2 separate regions of the Homo sapiens genome follow, and region 1 is linked to region 2. A link means that fine-mapping ties the variant in region 2 to the expression of a gene that starts in the linked region. Tissue or cell type: monocytes after R848. Region 2 holds a variant in brackets; the other region holds the start of a gene. All regions are shown on one strand. Distances are between the middles of the regions.

Region 1 (8,108 bases), 210 kb after region 2:
TACCTCTGAACTTTGACAATGTGAGAACTCTGGTGCTCTGGTGACAGTGCTTAGCAGAGACCAGGAGACCTAGTGGAGCAGAGGCTTACCTAGTAGGAGGAGGATTAGTCATGAGTATGTCCCACATCGCCCATGTGCTTAGATTAACATTGCAGACGGGCCTCTGAGGGGCCTGTGTTCTTCAGTCAATGGCAAAGAAAGGCCAGTGGATTTTAATTTCTCGTTGTCTTTGTACAGGTAGAAGAAGTCAAGATTTTAGGGTCTGGAATTATATAGACTGGCTCTGCAACTTATTAGCTCTGTGAATTTGATCAAAGTTACTTAACTCTCTGAGTTTCCTTCCTCAGGTGTGCTTACCTCCTCAGGTCAAAGGAGTAAATGAGAAATTACATGGAAGCCTTTAACTCATGACACAGAGTCCAACATCACAGGCCAGATTCCTTCAGCCTGAAGGTGCTTCCTCCTCACTCCCTGTCTCACTCTTACTCATCTTAAGTTTAAATGCCCTCCACTTTTTTTTTTTCCAGAGAGACATTATTCTTGAGCCCCTGTAGCAGACTCTAGATTGCCTACCCAGCATCCATTGCCACCCTCTCCTTTTTATTCGGGTATGCACTTCTCAAAGAATGCAATCGGGAAGAGTTAGGAACCAGTCCTGCAGAGCCTAAGAGGCTGGGAATGGTGATTCTCCCCTCCACCTCCAGCATTTAGGTGTGAGCACATGCTTAGTTTGGATTAATGACAGGTGAGAAGTCTCCTGGAAGCTTCCAAGAACGATTTCCCGACTCTGGAAAAGAGAATCTCTGTGACCTTTGGGCACTGTTGGGATTGCCCATAATAAATGGAGTTGTTCCAGTCATCCTGGGGCCATGGGTGGAGCAGCCCCAGGGGACAAAGCTGCCATACTGGGAATGGCAGGGGGAATAACGGGAACAGGCCAGGGCCTTCCCAGACACAACTGTGTTCCTGAATTCACCAACTAGAGCCTCCTGACCTTGGAACTTCTTGCCTTGTGAAACAGTAAGTTTCCTTATAATTTAAGCCATTCTAAATTGGGTTAATTATTAATTGCAGCCTCCCACATCTAAATTATAACCCCATATTTTTTTCTCTCATTTTCCTTCACAGTATTTCTCCCACATATGCTTACTTTTGTGTTTACTTATTTAATGTCTGTTTCTCTCACTGGATTGTACACTCTAAGTTGGCAGAGATCACAAGTTAATTTTGTTCACCATTGAATTCTAAGTATTTAGCACTGGGCCTGAGATGCAGGAGCTGCTGAAAGCACATTTGTTGAAAGACTGAATTAAAAGCTCAAAAAGTGGTCACTTTCCTTCTCTTCCTCCGTTTCCTTGTTCAGCATGGTAGAGTTGTAGATTTGACAGAGCATAGGATTGCTGGGAGGGAACTTAGGTTCCCCCTCAAACTCTTCCTAGCTGGGTGACCCTGGGCAACAGCCTGCACTGCATCGACAGCTTTCAAGCTTTTACCTCAATGAACGGTAAGAAAGTACATATGACCCAGTTGACCCAGTGTGCGTGCATACTCTGCTATTTTTTATTCTATTTGGTATCATTTTAAAAATGCTGGCTTTGACCCAGTACATCAATTTTATAATCCATTAATTAGCAACCCATTGTTTAAAAAAGCCCAGGACTCAATGAAATGTAAGGACTTTGCAGCATTATTCACAATAGCAAAATCATGGAGTCAACCTACGTGTCCATTAAGGGGTGATTGGATTTATAAATGTGGTTTTATATTATATATATACACATATATATATATATATATATATACAAAATATATACACACACACTATGGTGGTATACACACACATACACTGTGTACCTATCACCTGAAAAACTGGGAAAATTTTTTTTTGATTCAGGGGTACTACACACACACACACACACACACACACACACACACACACACAATGGAATACTACCCAGCCACAAAAACAATGAAATCATATCTTTTGCAGCAACATGGATGGAACTAGAGGCCATTATCCTAAGTGAAATTACTCAGAAACAAAGTCAAAAACTGCAGAATCTCTTATAAGTGGCAGCTAAACAATGGGCAGGCATGAGTATCCAGAATGGAATAACAGACACTGGGGACTCCAATAGGTGGGAGGGTGGGAGGTGGGTGAGGTAGGAATTACAACTTATTAGGTACAGTGCACATTATTAGGGTAATAGGTGCGCTAAAAGCCCAGACCTCACCACTATGTGTTATGTCCGTGTAATGCGACTGCACTTGTACCCCTGAATCTGAAATTTTTTTTTAAAGTGAAGACTTTGAAAATCTGTTTTTCTCCTTTTTGTCATTAAATCGCTAATAAAAATTCAGCCCATCAACTTAAAAGTCCATTATTACAGTGACATACAATTACTTATTTTCTCTTTTCTTGTGGAATTCTTCCTCACTCCTTTCTCCTCTAATTTTTTTTTTTTTGAGGTCTTTATAAAATGTACAGACTCTGGGATAGCTTCATGAAAAGGTACTTTGTGTACTTTCGCGATTTTCCTCCAGTTAGCACAAAAACAAACAGGACTATATTCCTCCTCCTCTGAAACTTAATGGTCTCATTCAACATATTTTACATGGGCCTCATTTTTAATATAAGTTTATGTATGTAACAGTGTATACAAATGTTACATGAGCCCCACTGCCACCATGTGGTTTAAAAACCCAAGAGAGTTGGTTGTAACATTCTCTAGATGCACAGTGAGGAATAGACCCTCACTATACTTTCCATCTCTCAACACAGAAACTGCCCTTGTCCTCCGTGAATTTGCTGGTGAAATTCCTCTGGGGGCAGAAGGAAAGGGAAAAAGCCACATGGAGATCTCACAACTCCAGAGCACAGCAAATAATGCGGTGGGGTGTACATATATATTTAGGAAACCATATTGCACCCTTCAGGAAAAAAAAATGTACTCAAAAGGTGACGAGAGAGCATTATCTTCTTGGGTGATCAAGAAAGCTCCCTTCCCAAAGACCTGCAGATTCGGAAGGTATAATCTCTGTCCCTCGAAACTCGATTCAACCCCTGCCCCCAGCATCACGTGAACTGGCAAACTAGATGTAAGTTATGGCCCCAGAGTCCGGGAGGGGCGCGTCGACGAGCTGCTTCGGGGTCACATGTCTTCGTAGAAAGGCATTGGTGTGACAGAGGAGGGCATGTCCAGGGTACGTGCGCCTGTTTGAGCTCTGGGAGGGAAGGCGAAGTGGAGAGAGCCTGCAGTGAAAACAGACTGGAAGGATGGAGGAAAGGGAGGGGAAGGAAAAAATGAACACCTCCCTGAACTTTCCTCTCCCCTCGTCCCACACACTTGAAATAGAAATAATAACATGAACAAAAATGCTTACAACCACGATGTTATCGCCCTACTTAAGTTGCCTCACTATGGAGGGTATGGGGTATAAAGTGCAGACTGCGGCTGTGTCGGGAGTAAAGGTTCGGGCTAGTGTGCGTGCGGGCGCGGGTGACCCCACCTTTAGGGAAGCCGGCGCCCAACTATCCAGGCAGTAGCCCCGGCTGACCCCCTCCCTCCTCCTTCCCTCCTCTCTTCCCTCCCTCCCTGCGTGTCTCCTCTGCACCGGCCCCCGCCGCGGAGCCAGGCGGCAGCACCGACGCCGCCGCAGCTCCTGCCCGCATCGCGCTAACCCGCGCCCCCGGCTCACACGTAGCCGGAGCGACTGAGCCGGCAGCCCCGGGCCCACGCTGCGCACCGTGTGCACGGCGGGGCTGGCTGAGCTGACCTGCGCTGGGCTCCGGCGCCGCAGGCGGCTGGGGAGGGCGGCGTGGGAGAGGACGCTGAGACGCAGGGGCGGCCGCGCCGAGGTGACAAGCTGCGCACCTGGAAAGTTACCCGGCTGTCTGGTGAGGTTCGTGGGCCGGGGGTCTTGGGCGCCGGGGTGTGAGGGCGCGCGGGGAGGGACGGGGTCGGGGTGCGCGCGTGTGCATGCTGTGAATGCGTTGCGCGATGTGCGCCTCTATTCCACACCCAGCCGGTCTCTTGCTTGTGCTGTTCGAGTGTGGACGTGTGTACGCGTTGCATTCGCTCGGTGTGGCAGCGTTTCGTGAGCTCCTGGAGGCAGGGAAAGGCTACTTGTGTTTAGAGGTTCTGTTGAGGGCGGGAGGGGCTCAGCCCCAGTGGGGAGTCCTCAGGGTTCTCTAGGTTTAGCGAGGAGAAGCGGTGGAGGCTGTTGCTCCGAGCTAGGGGCTTGGCGGTGCTGTCAGGGCTTGCGCTCCCGGCTTTGCTTCGTCGAGCTCTGGGTAGTTGCTAGGGGACAGTCCTCAGGCAAGGACTTTTAGGAGTCCTGGTAAACTTGTGTGGGTGTCCTTTTGTCACTCTGGGCACCGTGAGGCGCTTTCATATTTCTGTATTTCTCGGTGATGAAGAAACAAGAGCAAACAAAGCCCAGAAACCAGCCACTTTGGGGATGAGAAAAAAAGAAATAGGTTCAGTTCTGAGAAGAACTACGGTGCAACTACGAAGCAGCTGAGGCCAGAGCTGACAATAAAAGCAACGCATGCAGAATTAGTAGGTAGGAAGGGTGACGCTGGGACAAATGCCTTGATTTCCTGATCTTCATCTTGTTCCCCAAGTTCCCAGGGGCTTTTTCCTTCTTCTTCTTCTCCTTCTTTTTTTTTTTTTTTTTAAGGAAGAGAGCAACATACACCTGCCCCCACCCCACCACACCCCCATATTTAGAGTTTCTTAGAAATTGTCTCTTTTCTTTGCAAGTTTCTATTTAACTCATGAAGAAGGCGATCATCCCACATAACATACACTAGCTGTTTTCAGTACTCCTGTTTAGTTTTGCACAGGAGGGTATGAGCTAATATGGTAGAGAATTCTCTATGGAGAATTAGAGTGCATCCTCTCCGTTGGAACGCTGTATGACTAAGAATAAACGACCTGAAAAGATGATGCCCAGGGATCTTTCTCTTTTACGTGAAATCCTTAACTCCAGTTCTATGAAGTCATTACAAGTGAGGCTAATGAGAATTCACCTCACAGTGAAGGCATATGTTGCCTGGCTGTTGCCCAAGTCCTGTGATCCCTTATTGTCTTGCTTCCTCTAGGCTATTTTTCCTATGAATTATCTCTTCTTCTCCCATGTTTTCGTTTTTCATATCTCCTGTGCTTCATTATCCTGGAGCTACAGACATTTTCAAATTTTCATTATTTTAAAAATCCCTCACATGAATCATGATATCGTCTTGCAGGCTCTACTCTTAGTGTCAGCTCTTTCCATGGTCCCTTGTAGTTGAGTGTCTATCCCCACTCTTTGACAAATCAGATTCAGCACTTTTCTCTCTGATCTCATTTGCTGTGACAGGCCTGTGGGATGTGAGGTACAGCCTGCTCACCTCTTAAGGATCTTATCTGCATGGCCTTTCTGATGCTTCTCCTAAATCTCTTATTGGTACACGTGTTCCTTCTCCTTTGTGGTTTGCTTCTCCTCCTCTTCTCCCACAAATAATATCCACAGATATTACCTATATGTTCATAGGTAACAATAGAGACATTCCTTTCTTACCTCCCTTAGTGATCTCATCTACAAATGGTACTTCAAGTCTTCTATGGAGCAATCTCTTCCCTTGAGTTTTCTTTTTTGCTTCTACCTGCTAGACATTTGCATCATGATGACCCACAAGCATCTCAAACTCAATATATGTAAATCCAGACTCATTACTGTCTTTTCAAAGCATGCTCATTCTCCTGACTTCTGTCAGTGCCACAGTGTCTAGCCCATACACGGTGCCCTATGTGTTCTTTTTGAATGACTGAATGAATGAAGAGTAGATAGTAATACTTTCCTTCAAGCCTCCTAAGATCAAAACATTGAAATCATTTTGATTGCCCTCCCATGCACATCCATTTAATTACTACATTAGAGATGCTATCCTGCAGTGTTCCTCCTACTCACCCTCTTCTAATATTAATCTCTTCACATCCTCTCTCACTTTAACCAAAGCAGTACCTTCTTACCATATCTTACAGTTTTCTTTCCAACCTCATATAGACCTAGACACTCTCCTCTCCTCATCGCTAATATCCTGGGCACTTGCCTCCAATTCATCAACTTCAGCCTCTATTTATGTATCAATAACTGCTTAATATTTTCAGCTTTCCTCTTTCTTTAGCTTTTCTTGTCCCTCATTTCTTACTGCTCACTAAACTTCTCTACTTAAAGTTTCCACTGGTGCTTCAAACTGAGTATATCCAAAATTAAACTCACTGTCCTATCCCTCAAATCTGCTCCTCATTTTGGTCAATGACATTACCTTTTACCCAGTTGCCACAGTATAAACTTTCAAATCCTCATCGTCTTTCTTCTTGCCACCACTCAAAAATTCTGTCAGCTATAATCTTCTGACCTAGACTTACAGACCTACATTTCTGTGTGTTTGCTTGTTTATCTGTTAATGTAGCCCCCCAAATAGCTGAATTTGGCAGTCAAATATAGGATAGTGGCATTCATAAAATTCACCGCGAACATTCTGCTGGGGGGGTGGGAGGGAGGCACTTTAAAGAGATAACCAACCTCCAGAGTAGCTGCAACTTTGGTACAACAAGGTCATATGATTTCCTGTCAAGAGAAAGTTTTTCTCCAGCCAGGATGCTGTGGACAGAGAAAACAAGCAGTAGATTCCAAACTGAGCCCCGGGTCAACAGTCACAAGGTTGGATGGACAGATGCTTTTAATTGTGGCATTAATGTGAAAGTGAGCTGTTTCTCACAAGGACAACAACTCTGTGTGGTTTGCTTCAGGGAGAAGAATCAGGGATTTATATATTCAATTATTTTCTAAAGGAACTTTAGAGAGACAAGCTAATGGTAACATCAAATGTATCAGTTTCCTATCCACCTAGAATATTATCTGTAGAAGTCTGTATAATTCACTCCTCTGATTTCCAGCTGAACTGCCCATTATCATTAAAAAATCAATTCTGGTTTCCATGATTTATTGAAGGGAAGGACATTGCAGTGTTACATATAGCTGTAACTTTTATTGAATCTCATATGGCAATGTTTTTCTCTCTGGCTACCACGGAGATGGTCAATTTTTTTCTTGAGTTCAAGAAGTTCAAGTCATTAAATAGTGTTGGGACTCTGAGCTTTAATCCTTAAACTATCACCTCCTATTTGGATTGGTGCAATAGTATCTTCCCTTGTCTTACTTCCTCTAAGCTCTTTTTACTCCATTCCTTATTTATGAGAATATTATTTTCCTAAAGGACAAATCTGACCACATAACTAGAGAACTTAGTGTATCTTAAGATTCAGATACCATAATGTGGCGTAGGAAATTTTTCAGTATCTTACTTTTTCAGTTTCATTATTCATTACTCTCCTTCCATCCATCACACATTTCAGCCTGTCCCTTGACTGTGCTATCAGCTTTCTTGCATTCATTTCTTAATACATAATTCTTTTCTTAAACTAATAGACTTTCTATATTGTAGAAATTTTAGGTTTATAGAAAAATTGAGTAAAAAGCACAGAGTTCCTATATACCCACCTCTTAGCACTTTCCCCTGCTCTTAACATCTTTCATCAGTATGGTACATGTGTTACAAGTGATGGAACAAATATTGATGCATTATTATTAAAGTCCATAGTTTACATTGGGGTTCATTCCTTTTGTATATTCCATGGGTTTTGACAAATATATAATGAAATGTGTATATCATTACAGTATCATATTGAATAGTTTTACTGCCCTATAAATGTTCTTTCCCACCTATTCCTTTCTGTCTTTCCCCAAGCTCCTGGCAACCACTGATCTTTCTATGGTCTCCAAGTTTTGTCTTTTCCAGAATGCTATACAGTTGAAATCATACAATGTATAGGCTTTTCAGATTGGCTTCTTTCACCCAGCAATATGCATTTAAAGTTCCTTCATGTCTTCTTGTTGGCTGATATTGCTTTTATTATTGAATAATATTCTATTATATGGATGTGCCACAGTTTGTTTATCCGTTTACCTACTGAGGGACTTCTTGGTTGCTTTCAGGTTTTGGGAATTATAAACAAAGCTGCCATAAACATTCATGTGCAGATTTTAGTGAAAACATA
Region 2 (8,108 bases):
CCATCTATAGGTGGCTTGCGTTAACCGGCTCAATTAGACCCTCTACCTTATGGCAAGGACAGAGGGCTTTCTGTATCTCAGCATTCTTGCCTCGGTGTACTGGAAGAATCGGGTCGCACATAGGCTTGGAAAATGAGTGCAAAGCTTTTTGTTTGTTTGTTTGTTTGAGACGAAGTCTCTCTCTGTCGCCCAGGCTGGAGTGCAGTGGGAGGATCTCGGCTCACTGCAGGCTCCGCCTCCCGGGTTCACGCCATTCTCCTGCTTCAGCCTCCCAAGCAGCTGGGACTACAGGCGCCCGCCACCACGCCCGGCTAATTTTTTGTATCTTTAGTACAGACGGGGTTTCACCATGTTAGCCAGGATAGTCTCGATCTCCTGACCTCGTGATCCGCCCGCCTCAGCCTCTCAAAGTGCTGGGATTACAGGCGTGAGAGTGCAAAGTTTTATTGAGTGGAAGTAGCTCTCCGCCTATGGGGGAGCCCAAAGGGAGATGTTTTTACACTGGAGTGGGGCCACTCAGTGGCCCAGGCTCTCCTCCGACTGCGCCTGCCAAACTTCGCCTCGTCCCGCCAGTAAGTGGCCTGCCAGTGTGCTGGCGTATGTCGGTGTGCCCATCTGCCAGCGTGCTCCCCTCAGTGTCCTCTCGACGACCAGCCGCTCCTCAGACTGCCCCTGCCAAACTCCGCCTCATCCCGCCAGTCTGTCCTGCGTGCTGGCATCTTTCGGTGTGCCCTGCCGGCGTGCCCTTCTACCAGTGTGCTCCCCTCAATGTCCTCTCGACGACTCGCCACTTGCGTCTTCTTCAGCAGATGTGTTCCTCACCACGTCCAGCTACTTGTGTGTCTGTCTGCCGGCGGTCTCGGGTTTTTATAGGCCCAAGATGGGGGCGTGGTGGGCCAGGGTGGTCTTGGGAAATGCAACATTTGGGCAGGAAATGTCTGTCCTCACCTAGGTCCGTGGGGGTTGAGCCCTAGCCAGGGACCTGCCTTTCTCTACCCAGCACTTCCCTTCCCCATTCCGTATCATTTAAAGGGACCGTGCTCTTCCCCTCCCAGCACTCCCGTATCAATTGGTTGAAATGAAAATTATATTCTTTGGTATAAAAGACAGTTTCCACGTTAAAATTGTTTTTTAAGGAGCTTTGAAGAACAGCTCTCATCTGTGTTGGTGTTCAAGCCACACACTCTGCCTTTTCCATATCCTGTCTGTTCTCATGGCCCAGCTCCAATGCCTCCCCCGTCCCTGGCCCGTTTTTCCCTAGAAAGAATTTCTCCAGAACTCATACACTCAGGAGGCACTCTTCCTCTCTCGTTACCAGCCATGTGGTTTTGTGTAGTGTTTGTGGTTTTCTCTATTGCTATGTAAGCCCCTTGAGGGCAAGCACAGGGTCTTCCCCTAATGTCTGCCCCAGCTCTGGACACAGTGTCTTGCTCTCTATTACTCGTCAGCCCATGCTCCTGTAGTGTCATTGAATGGTACTGGGTTATCGCAGGTGTTGGCCAAGGCATAGCAACCACGAAGAAGTTAAAACAAAATAAAACAGGCTATTATAATTTACAAAATACATACGTTAAGTGGATACTAAGATTAAGCATAATCATCCCTTGGTATTTATGGGGGATTGGTTCCAGGACCTCCTGCAGATACCAAAATCTGAGGATGCTCTAGTCCCTGGTATAATAAAATGAAACTTTCTGTTGCTGTTGTTTTCAGAAATATTCTTTTCTTGTGGCCATCAGTCTTACTGATTCAATAACACATAACCTGTTAGGGTAAACTCAAAATAATAAATAGATAATACTTGAATATAGCCATATGCATCCTCTCTTATACTTTAAGTCATCTCTAGATTACTTATAATACCTAATATAATGTAAATGCTATGTAAATAGTTGTTGTACCATAAATCATCTCTAGATTAATTTCAATATCTAATATAATGTAAATGCTATATACATAGTTGTTATACCATATTACTTAGGGAACAATGGCAAGAAAAAGAGTCTGTATATATTCAGTACAGACCCATATTTTTTGTTTCAAATATTTTTGATCTGCAGTTGATTGAATCCACAGGTGCAAAACCCACAGATAGAGAGGGCTGACTATATTCTGGAATCATTGTACCTACCTGAAAACTTTTATACATTAGCTTTGAAGGCAGTAAGATATTTTTACATAGATGCTTTTCTTGGTGGCCCTAGAGCCATTCATTGCAGACACGTAGATTCATCAGTGGCAGATACACCTCTGACGGCAGACACCCTTATTGTCAACTATTGTTTAAACTCTCCCAGTGTTCATGGAATGTGTTGTGAAGATGCTTATATCTACCAAGTAAATCTATCTGTGATAACCTGTACCTAAAAGCTCTTTATCATTAATGATCTTTGCTTTTTTTGTTTTTGTTATAATATAAACCTACGCAAGATATAGATTTATCTGTTTAAGCTTTTGCCATCTCCATTAATAAATGTTTGTTTTTTAAGTGACTGGCAGTTTTCCCAGAGAGCCAATAGGACTTAAAAGCTTGATTTTTTTTTTCCTGGTTTAACTTTGTAAAATCAAACTTAAAACACAGGAAAGATAAAATTAGTATTACACAAGGCATTTTCATCCTAGTTCAAGTAGTCTGTTACATTCTGTCTTAGGTTGTGTTGTTTTTATTACTCAGGTCGAGCCTCTTAGGCAGAGTTTAACACATGGGAGCTGCCTGCCTGCTGCTGCTGCTGCTTCCTGCAGATCATGGAGGGGCTGGCCTTTGTTTTCTGGCATCTCGTACCACGAACACTCATGAAGACCCTGCAGTCATTGGAGCACCCGGGTCAGCAAAGCACACAAGCTCACTCAAGACCAGATGGAGAACTTATTTCCTGCAGCTGACAGATAGACTCAGATTTTGTGAGACTGAAATGTTCACTGAAGACACTTGAGAAAGAATCCTCTAAAAATCCCGGCTCTGCACATTATTCATCTCCTGGAATTTCCATGTGAATCACAGCTCTGCACCTGGATGGAGTTTTCTTTTGTGTGTGTGTGTTTTTTTTAATTTGGTTGAACATTTGCTGCTAATGGGACTTGCCCAGCTGAGTGCTGGCTCTGAGGAAGCCCACGTTTCTTTTGTTAACTTAAATGAAGAAAGGAGTGGAGGGAGGGGATCTAAAACCCCCCCGTTTAGATCCCAAACCTTAGCTCAATCAGTATTGCCAGAGAGGGGTAAGACTGGTTGGAAGCTGACTGCAGACTTTGTTTCCCCTTAGTATGTGCTGTGTTGTAAATTTTTCTCCTCCCTCCTCCTACAAGGTTTTGAGTTGGCTGCTGGTTAGCAAACTCCTTTTTACCCATATAAGTTATTTAATATAATAATGAAGCTCAACACTGTGGTAGGAAAATAGCCACTAGAAAGAAAATAAAAAGCAGAGTTTGTCATTGGACTGCTTAACATGCTAGAAGGACTTTTTTTTTTTTTTTTTTTTTTTTTTTTTGCTCTTCTGAGCTGTTTACAACTGACCACTGTGTTCCACAGATGTATTTTTCAATAGCTTTTTGTTACTTAGTTTTCCATGATGCCTGTTATTTTTCTCTTGTAAATTTAAATGAGCTGACTTTAAGGATCTTGGGAAAACCCATGGCATAATTACAATTTTCTTTTTAATCGACTTTTCATTACTTTTGGGAGTCTGTTGGTAACTAAAGATGTCAACAAAGAATAAATTGGAGAAGTTACCTGTCCCCACTATAGCAGTAAACAAAACAGATGAAAAACACCTTGCTGTTAACTCAATGGTTGATCTAATTGTGAAATCGTTCACCTTGTTAAACATCTAAGTAAGTCTGTAGTCGCTCTGCAAACAGCCATTATATTTATTTACTCTAGAAGAAACTGTAGAGTAGTAATTCGTGCTAATGAGAAAAACAAAATACCATGTTCAAAACAGATGTATTTGAAAACTTAATGACATGGTTCCAAAAACTAGAGCATGTATGTATGCTGTGCATCATCTCAGCAGACCTAAAATATCCCCAAGTTGTCCCTTTACAGCCATCAATATATTTTACACTCTGCGGCCAGGAGTTGTGGCGTCTTTCTTTTCTTTTATGGGTGGAATTGTTGGGGGCGGGCATGGGCTATAATCACAGTGGATCAGTTCAAGAGACTGGCTAAGAATGTATCTGAGGAAGTTATCTTAACAGTTTGTGCATGGGCATTTATTTTTTAAAAAAGAATGATAGTATTATTTGCCAGGCATTTTCTAAGTGTTTAGCATAGATTCATCTCTACCTATTAGGGGTGGAAATAATAATAACTTGTACAAGGCCACATAGCTAATGAGAGGCACAGATACTTGAAATGGGCCTTCTAATTCCAGACCTCAAGCTTTAAACCACACCACCACAGCATCTCAAACTTCAATATCCTTGCAAAT[T/A]ACCCGGGAATCTTTTTTACATGCAGATGCAGATTCTGTCGGTCTGGGATGAGGCTCAGGGAATGCTGATGCTGCTGGTCCTGGGATCCCGCTCAGAGTAGGAAGACACTTCTGCCTCATGATACCTGTTGAGATTTTAATTTATGGGGGTAGCTGAGTGATGACACACAGAGGCCAGTGCCACTGAAAGCTTTATATTATTCAATTTCCCCAGAGAAAGGGCACATGCCATGCCATGCAGGGCCACAGGGGAAGCACCGGTGTCGGTCGGGGGCAGAAGCAGGAGCAAGAAGAAAGCATAGGCTTTGACTGAGGTTTCTGCAGGGAGGCAAGGCAGAGCAAGGCCAACAGTTTCCAATTGGCAAGTCTGAATAATTCCAGCAGGCTCTGGGCTGGAGGGGCGGTCTCCATTTGCTTGGTACCTAGCCCCTGGGGTGAGTTAGGGCAATTTCTATATTGGCTTGGTGTGTGAAAGTTAGATAAAGGGGAAGGTTGCGGCTATGTTCTTGACAATAGTTAGATATGCTCAGGGCTCAGTCCTTTGCTGTCTCCAAGAATTAGCTAGTCCTGGGAGTCTCTTCCCTGCCAGCAAAATTTATAAGATACCAGAACATCATAAGATACAGAAAAAAAACCGTGATGAATGCAACTTCACAATATTGCCTCCTTTTTCCTTGCACTGCCTTTCCCTGATCCCTCTACCACTTTGGTTATTGTGACAGCAACAAGATTCATCTTTCAACCATCTACACCAGGGGTCAGCAAACTATGGGCTGATGGCCAGATCTAGCCAGCTGCTTGTTTTGTATGGCCCACAAGGTAACAATGCTAGAAAAAAAAAAAGAAGATCTCATGATGTGAAAATTATCTGAAATTCAAATTTCAGTGTCCTTAAGTAAAGTTCTATTGGAACATGGCCACACATTTATTTATATATCTTCTTGTGGCTGTTTTCTGCTACAGCTGCAGCGTCTTATACTAAACAGACTGTATGGCCCATAAAGCCTCAAATATTTACTTTATGGGACTCGATGGAAACTTTACTGACCCCTGATCTCAGTGTTTCTTTTAAGCATTGCAAAGATAGTTTGCAAAAATGCTATGAGAGCTCTATGATGGCATTAGATACCTAAATGTAGCAGCTGAAAAAAATTTCCTAAAGTGGTATTAGGCCTAAAAAAAAGTGATTCTAGGGCTACTTAAACAAGAAGTTTTTACAGCAAGAGTTACATCCTCTACTCATTTTAATGTCTAGGTAAGCCAGAGCTTTAAATCCTGTATTAATTTACCTGTGAAAATATTTCATATTCTCCCTTTTGTGCCGTGTGTGCGTTGGATTCCCCAGTGGGTGTATAGATGAATTTATAATTTATGTGGCTGGATGGAAGCCTGGGTAAATACAAGCATAAACAACATCAGGCAATGCCAGTCGATAGACTGCGATTCCAGGATGTGTTCTGTCCAGGCCTGCCGTTCATTCCAAAGGCCTGCATTTCAAAGCTGCAGGCTTGGAGCTGGGACTGCTGGGAAGGTGGGGGGCAGGGTTCAGAACTGGTTGGGCTTAGGAAGGTACCAGGAGAGTGCACCTTCTAGTACTTGAAATGTCCCTCCATTTTGAGGACACAGGAGTGGCCTACCTTTCATCTAACAAAGACAAGAGAATTGAACGCTGATTGTCTTTGTCTTTGAAGGGTTTATTGCTTTACCTCTTCACTTCACCTGGCTTTGGCACCTCTGTCATTTCTTCATTTACTGTTTTTTCTAGCATACTTTTAACTTCTTTCTGTACTTTCTCTTTCCAACTGCTGTCCACATGCCACCTGTGTATAGAATCCCAAGAAAACATAACCCACCATTAGAATTTTAGTTGCTAAACTATATAAGAACTTTGAGCTGTAGATTAACATCCTCTACCTTCCTTTGGTGCCATTTGTTTACCCCTTTTTCCGAACAAAAAACAATACCTGCCCCTGTTCCAAAGGTGTCTTACTATTCCAATAAAGAATGCATGCCTGGGAATAAAAAGAAGCTTAGACTACTGTTCCAATGGAGCTAAGTGTTCAAAGAAATTCCTGAATTCATTTCCTGGGGGAAAAAATGTGGTTAGTGACCTGGAAACTACTAACAACTTATAAAACTCAATACTCTGATGGCGACTCTGTTCGCTTTACCCCTAAGACATCTTGAAAGGAAAGACTTTTGTCAGAGTTGGGCTTCTAAAGTTTTAATAGGAAATTGAGGCACTTTCTGTATAATTCAAGCCAAAGATTTTTTTTTTTCTGGGTTTGAATGATTGGATAATTGCCTCAATTCTCTGTTCCATGTAATTGAGATCACTTGACTCTTCTTAGTGCTAATAAAGAGATGTTGGGATTCACGGTTTATTAACCAAACTTTTCAGTTTGTGGACCTGTCATTCAAAACTGCAAACAAGGCTGATCCCATGCAAAATAGACTACTGCCTTTATGCTGTACTAAGAATCAGTCCCTCTTAAAGGATGCATTTATAACCTTTATGCAATGAGGAAATTTCCAGGTAGCCAATTTTCTTTATAGTGCTACCAGCCTTCAGCAAGCTTAAACTCTGCCCTGCAAGCCTGAAACCCTGCTTCTCTAAGATTCTACATAACAGGAGATTAAACATCCAAATGTGTATAATCGCATTCTGGACAGTATGAAGAAGCTGTCTTGGAATATTGTTAACTATTAGAATACTTAAAGTGTGCACATCACCCAATTTAGGATTTCTTGGTAATAGTAGCCTATACTTTAGAAAATTAAAGAGGAGGAAGGGGCCGGGCACAGCGGCTCACACCTATAATCCCAGCACTTTGGGAGGCCGAGGTGGGCAGATCACTTGAGGTCAGGAGTTTGAGACCAGCTTGGCCAACATGGAGAAACGCCATCTCTACTAAAAATACAACAAATAATTAGCCAGGTGTGGTGGCCTGTGCCTGTAATCCCAGCTACTTTGGAGGCTGAGGCAGGGAATCGCTTGAACCTGGGAAGCGGAGGTTGCAGTGAGCCAAGATTGCACCACTGCACTCCAGCTAGGGTGACAGAGTGTGACCCTGTCTCCAAAAAAAAAAAAAAAAAAGGAAACTGATGTTTCTGAGAATAAAAAGGAAAATTACTCCTTGATGGATGTCAAACCAGTGGGTTTTCTACAATGAAACAAAGTTTGCTTGCTTTCTTTCCACCCACACTGCTTGGAGAAAATGAAAGTTAGCAAAAATCACCTTTCTCCAGATGAATCGTTGTGGGAAAGTAAGTTTAGCAGAATGTGCTGTCAACTTGGTTGAGATAAGGCAGTTGGAGGACTGGCATTATTAAATTTTCTGTGGTGCAATTAGGGGTCCTCCTAAGTGCAGGTGAGCTGTGGTGAGGAGTTAATGTATGCTCAGTAAATATGTGCTGAATGCATGAGCAAGGCAGTTATTAATCTGGTTATCATTGGGGATTCACAAATTTCACTTTATATCTTGTAACAAATCTCAAATTGTGCCCCTGAAACATCTGGATTTTGAAAAGTGATTCCAATCCATTGTCATGGGTGGCACTATTCCCAGAAATCAACAAAGGAAATCCAAGCCACTGAGGGTTTTTAAAAAATTTTGAGTATTAACTAGACTGTTATACTCTTCTGTGTTTATATGTAGTACCAATAATCAAGACAATAAA

Direction of the effects. Alleles are on the strand shown, and positions count from the first base shown. SD is a standard deviation of normalised expression in the study named.
In carriers of allele T in region 2, the expression in monocytes after R848 of the gene that starts at base 3,612 in region 1 tends to be lower than with A alone (moderate effect, 0.63 SD a copy in Quach 2016).

Evidence for each region. PIP is the estimated chance that this variant, and not a neighbour inherited with it, causes the effect.
Region 1: it holds the start of PRKG2, and the variant in region 2 is fine-mapped to the expression of PRKG2 in monocytes after R848 (Quach 2016, PIP 0.95).

What each region holds. Positions count from the first base shown.
Region 1 is chr4:81,210,726-81,218,833 of GRCh38, reverse strand. It overlaps PRKG2 (protein kinase cGMP-dependent 2), which reads left to right and starts at 3,612. Exons shown (of 19, transcript NM_006259.3): 1 at 3,612-3,898. It overlaps LOC124900726 (a long non-coding RNA gene), which reads right to left and starts at 3,948. Exons shown (of 2, transcript XR_007058162.1): 1 at 3,876-3,948; 2 at 2,610-3,269. RefSeq lists enhancers at 3,579-4,079, 4,080-4,580.
Region 2 is chr4:81,422,359-81,430,466 of GRCh38, reverse strand. It overlaps RASGEF1B (RasGEF domain family member 1B), which reads left to right. Exons shown (of 14, transcript NM_152545.3): 14 at 2,675-4,074. The coding sequence ends at 2,699. Among named protein-coding and RNA genes, the nearest start is that of RASGEF1B, 45 kb to the left of the region's middle. RefSeq lists a silencer at 2,638-2,932 and an enhancer at 2,708-3,292. The variant T/A (reference allele first, on the strand shown) is at 4,428.